Regions from separate parts of the Homo sapiens genome. Here region 2 is linked to region 1. A link means that fine-mapping ties the variant in region 1 to the expression of a gene that starts in the linked region. Tissue or cell type: whole blood. Region 1 holds a variant in brackets; the other region holds the start of a gene. All regions are shown on one strand. Distances are between the middles of the regions.

Region 1 (2,912 bases):
TTGAGGGAGGTGACAGCTTGGAGGAGAAAGGTGAGGTCCACTCCAGAGTCAGGTGTCACAGAAGGGCTGAGAAGAGGTCACTGGATCTAGCCATCAGGGTTGTCCATGCCCTGGGCAGGAACATTTTCCTGGTGTGAGGGGGACTGGACTCTGGAGAAGCTCAACGGTGAAAAGTCTTTCTCAGTGCACCCAGGGTGAATCATGGCCCCTTCCCAGCCGAGGTCCATTCTGCCTGCTTCTTCATCCTGCCCCTCACACTCCATGGATGGTACTCCGTGCCTAGTCCTGGTTGGTCTATACACTCCAGGAGCAATCGCTAGGAATCACGATAAGTGTATTCTCCATTTGAGCCTTGTTTCAGTCAGTCCTGAGAGGTCTGTATTATTTTCACCCCCATTTTACAAATAAGCAGACTGAGGCTCTGCCCCACGTGCCCAAGACTGGGGATAGGTTTCATCCCTAACTTGTGGGTCGCATTTGAGAACAGGAAACCCACATCATCTGAACCTACAACATCCAGACTCGGTGGTTCTCAAACTTCAGCCTGCCTACAAATCACCTGAGATTCCTATGAATTCTGCTCTTGGGCCCCAAACTGCAGGAATTGATCGAGCAGGTGTGAAGCCGTATTTGGAGATGTGTGTTGTTAACCAGCACCCCAGGTGGTTCCCATGCAGGTGACCGAAGTCCACCCTTGAGGAAGCATTAACCCAACCCTGTGCGGCACAGAGGGTATTTCAGGCACTGGATTGGTCTGGACCCCAAGCAACCGGTTTCTGGCGATCAGTTAGGGCTCTGGCTGCAGCTGGGAGCGGATTGGGGCGGAGGGAGGCAGAGGGCGGTAATAAAGAAACAACAGGAAGCTCTGCTTTTATTAGCCCTGGGTAGTAGCAGCTGCAGGTGAGTAATCTGATTTCTGCGGCGTCCTGTTTTCTCCGCTGCCTGGCGGTTCCTCGACACCCACTCACCTGCCGCCAGCCACGGGAGAGAGGGCAGGGGGGAGGGAGGATGGGCGTGGGGCCCCGCCCGCCCAGGTCCCTCGCCCACGCCCACGCGGGCGCACCCGCCGCGCCGACGCCGCCACCGGCTGCGCACCTGCCGCGCTTGCTGCGGGGAAGCCAGGCTCTGCTGTGGCGGCGGCGGCGGCGGCGGCGGCTGGCGGGGAGGAGACGCGGACTCCCACTCGCGGCCCTA[T/G]CGCTTGCTCCCCGCCTCCCCGCCAGAGCTGCGCCACCAGGCTCTGGGCGCGCTCCCATGATCGGAAGGCTGAGAGCCGTCTCCCAGCTCCACCCTTGACTTCTGAACCTCAGTTGCTGCTTCTGTCAAATGGGAGCACGTCCACCTACCAGTGCTAGACTGGAGAGATCAGGAAAGGGGTGCTAAAGTTACAAACTGTAAAGGGCTGTAGCGATCACCAAGGCATCGGAAGGAAACTGGCCAAGAAAGGCAAGTCTCTTAGCTTTGCTGGGCCTCGGTTTCCTTATCTGTAACATGGGAATGAGTAACCCTTCCTCATAAGCAGATGATGCTCGTGACGTGGATGGAACGCAGAGCAGGACAAGGGCAGTGGCTGCCGTGGGGTCATTATTACTGTTGCTGTTAGCCCAGGCCAGAATCTGCATTCCCTCTTCTTACTTGGATACCCCGGTTTTCCCTGGTTCTCAGCACACGTTTAGGAAATGGGGGGCTTGGATCACAAAAGGATTTTCAGGGTCAGGGGCTTGCCCAAGACTGGGGATTGGCTCCATCCCTAACTCTCTGAACCAAGCTTTCCATCTGTAAAATGGGGTTGACAACAACTTCCCTGAAACCCACAGACATATAAAGACCAATGAGAAACTCAGAAACACCTGGTAAACTGCGAAGTACTACCCACATGCAAAGACTGTAATTATTTCTTCCAGGTGCCTCTTTGCCCTAAAGAGTCAAGGATGAGTCAAGAACCAAATGAGATGAGCCAGGAGGATCCCTGTGAGAAGGGCCGGATGGCATTCCCCTTTACCCATGGAGCTCACTGCAGTGTGCAGCGATGGCCCAAGGGTGGAGAGGAAGGTCAGGCTGGGTCCTGCCCTTGGGGGCTCATGTCCCAGTTAGCCCACGACGCAAAGGCCCAGGTGTGATGGGAGCACAGAAGAGGGGGGAAGCCGACTCTCTGGGCAAGGGGGATCAGGCTGGTACAGGGGGTACTTCCCAGAGGAGTCAGCCTTGACGGGACTCTCTGAAAAATGGTTGTAGCTCAGGTGGGGAGAGGGGCAAGGCACGTGCTGGACAGAGACGGATTCCAGCAGAAAAGTCCAGAGACAAGAAAGGGGGTAGTGTGCTCAGGAAAAGGGCGTGAAACGTGACTGAAATGCAGGATGGGGAGAGGAAATGGATTCAAGATAAAGTCAAATTGGAGCCGGGCATGGTGGTGCACGCCTGTAATCCCAGCTACTTGGGAGGCTGAGGCAGAAGAATCACTTGAACCCCAGAGGCAGAATTTGCAGTGAGCCAAGATCACACCACTGCACTCCAGCCTGGGTGACAGAGTGAGACTCTGTCTCAAAAAAAAAATTTAAAAAAAAAAAAAGATGAAGTCGAATTGGGAATGGCCTCCAGTTACCACCCTAGGAAGCTCAGACTTTATCCTGAGGTTGACAGGGAGCCACGCAGGGTTTGCAGCAGGAGTGACATGGTCAGTTGTGGGTTCTAGAAAGATCTCTGTGGTAGGCTGGGCATGGTGGCTCACACTTGTAATCCCAGCACCTTGGGAGGCCAAGGCAGGTGGATCACTTGAGGTCAGGAATTCAAGACCAGCCTAGCCAACATAGTGAAACCCCGTCTCTACTAAAAATACAAAAATTAGCCAGGTGTGGGGGTACGTGTCTATAGTCCTAGCTACTTGGGAGGCTGAGGCAGGAGAATTGCTTGGACCC
Region 2 (2,912 bases), 8.0 kb before region 1:
GAATAAATGAAAAGATCACATTGGTTATTCTATGGGGTATAAAGGCAGCAGGGAGTGCTAGGATGAAAGCAGGGATGCCCAGCACGGTGGCTCACACCTGTAATCCCAGCACTTTGGGAGGTCGAGACAGGCGGATCACGAGGTCAGGAGATCGAGACCATCCTGGCTAACACGGTGAAATCCCGTCTCTGTTAAAAATAAAAATAAAAAAAATTAGCCAGGCGTGGTGGTGGGCGCCTGTAGTCCCAGCTACTCGGGAGGCTGAGGCAGGAGAATGGTGTGAACCCAGGAGGCGGAGCTTGGAGCGAGCTGCCCTCCAGCCTGGGCAACAGAGCGAGACTCCGTCTAAAAAAAAAAAATTGGCCGGGCGCGGTGGCTCACGCCTGTAATCCAGCACTTTGGGAGGCCGAGGTGGGCGGATCACGAGGTCAGGAGATCGAGACCATCCTGGCTAACACGGTGAAACCCCGTCTCTACTAAAAATACAAAAAATTAGCCGGGCGAGGTGGCGGGCGCCTGTATTCCCAGCTACGCGGGAGGCTGAGGCAAGAGAATGTCGTGAACCCGGGAGGCGGAGCTTGCAGTGAGAGGAGATGGCGCCACGGCACTCCAGCCTGGGCGACAGCAAGACTCCGTCTCAAAAAAAAAAAAAAAAAAAAAGAAAGAAAGCAGGGAACGTCACTGAGAGGCTCTTACACAACTCCAGGCAAGAAACAGTGGTGCCTCGGACACAGGTAGTAACGGTGGAGACGGTGAGATTGCGGAAGCTTTGGAAGGTGGAGCTCATGCTATTCCTGATGGGTCAGTTTGGGGTGTAGAGATGGGACAGTTGAGTTTGTCAGCGGGAGGTCATCGATGACCTTGACAAGAGCAGTTTCAGTGGAGCGATGGGGGTGAAAGCCCCACAGAGAGAGCTGGAGAGAGAAAAGGAAGGAGGGATGAAGATGGTCAATTCAGAAAACACTGAGATGTTTTCCTGGAAGGGGGAGCAAAGAAATATGACGGTGTGGGTGTGGGGGTGTGTGTGCATGGGCTTGTGCATGTGTGTGTGTGTGTGTACAATTGGAAGAACTGCAGCCGATTGTGTGGTGATGTGAATGAGCCAGCAGAAGAGGGGGACCCCTGGAGCTGTGGGAGAGACGCAAGGAATTGCTCACTGTTGTCCTGGAGGAGGTGAGAGAGGATGAAGGGCAGTGTCCCAGTGGAGGGCGTAGAATTCAAGTTCCACAAGGCGTCCAGGTAACAGGCACGGATACAGGCGGGAGTGAAGGGAGAGGTGGAGTCTGAGGAAGTTTCCTTCTGATTGCTTCTGTTTCCCAGTGAAACAGAAAGCAAGGTCTCCAGCAGCTGACAGCTAGTACAGCAGGTTCTTTTTTTCTCAGGTGTTATAGATAGCTGCGCCTTCCGCTCACCACAGGTGAAATGGTTGGCTTGTATCTGGGGCCACACCACATAAAAACCATTTGAACAGCAGGATCACACTCAGCATGATGAGAGCCCACATGAGGCTGGAAGTGCAGGAACTTGGACCGGCGGGGGGAACCTGGCAGGTCACATTCCCTCTCAAGGGGTGAGTGCTCACCAAGTGGAATTGGAGTGTGACTCTGTAGCAGTGATTCATGCACAACGTGCTCTCTCTCTCTCTCCCCTCCCTTTACACGCGTGTTTAAATGTGTGTAAATTAGGCTGGGTGCAGTGGCTCACGCCCGTAATCCCAGCACTTTGGGAGGCCAAGGTGGGCAGATCACTTGAGGCCGGGAGTTCGAGACCAGCCTGGGCAACCTGGTGAAACACCGTCTCTGTGAAAAATACAAAAATTAGCCGGGCGTGGTGGTGCACATCTATAACCGCAGCTACTTGGGAGGCTGAGGCATGAGAATCACTTGAGCCCAGGAGGTGGAGGTTGCAGTGAGCCGAGATCACGCCATTGCACCCCAGCCTGGGTGACAGAGCAAGACCCTGTCTCAAAGAGAAAAAAAAAATGTGTGTAAGTTAAATGCACCATGATGAAGACTCCACTATAAATGGTGCCGCTGGAACCTCGGGCCTCCTGACTCCACATCAGTTTTGTCTCTACTATAATACTCCATCTCTCATCACACATCACTAGGGAGCACCAAAATTGCAGGGAAGAGGGTAACCCAGGCTGAAAGGAGGAAGAGAGCACTTAAACTAGAAAATTCTAGAACATCAGACCTCGATGGACCTTCACAGATCATTTGGTCCAACACCCTTATTTGACAGACATGGAAAATGTCATTCACTGACTCCCCCAATATCACACAACAGAATCCTCATCATCCCCATCATCATCCCCATCATCATCATCCCCATCATCATCATCACCATCACCATCATCCCCATCATCATCATCCCCATCACCATCATCCCCATCACCATCATCCCCACCATCATCATCCCCATCATCACCATCATCCCCATCATCATCATCCCCATCACCATCATCCCCATCACCATCATCCCCACCATCATCATCCCCATCATCATCATCACCATCATCATCATCCCCATCATCATCACCATCACCACCATCATCATCATCCCCAACATCACCATCATCATCATCCCCATCATCATCACCATCACCATCACCATCATCATCATCCCCATCACCATCATCACCATCACCATCAACATCACCATCATCACCATCACCATCATCCCCATCATCACCATCATCATCACCATCACCATCATCCCTATCATTATCATCCTCCTCCTGATCACCATAATTGTCATCTGCATGGAAGCTAGCCTATATTGATTACTCCCTGCTGCCAAGCTGTGTCCCATTTCATCATCAAAGCCTCTTGAGGTGGCCACTCTCATTATTTTCATTTTACAGGTGGTGAAACATCACAGAGCAGGTAAGGTATAAACTGGGAGACCCT

What was found. PIP is the estimated chance that this variant, and not a neighbour inherited with it, causes the effect.
Region 2: it holds the start of MDS2, and the variant in region 1 is fine-mapped to the expression of MDS2 in whole blood (TOPMed, PIP above 0.99).

What each region holds. Positions count from the first base shown.
Region 1 is chr1:23,617,813-23,620,724 of GRCh38, reverse strand. No RefSeq gene overlaps it. Among named protein-coding and RNA genes, the nearest start is that of MDS2, 8.1 kb to the left of the region's middle. RefSeq lists a silencer at 937-1,206 and enhancers at 712-1,212, 1,213-1,713. The variant T/G (reference allele first, on the strand shown) is at 1,195.
Region 2 is chr1:23,625,783-23,628,694 of GRCh38, reverse strand. MDS2 (myelodysplastic syndrome 2 translocation associated) reads right to left here and starts at 1,361. Exons shown (of 6, transcript NR_167910.1): 1 at 1,158-1,361; 2 at 697-914; 3 at 98-188. RefSeq lists an enhancer at 2,788-2,907.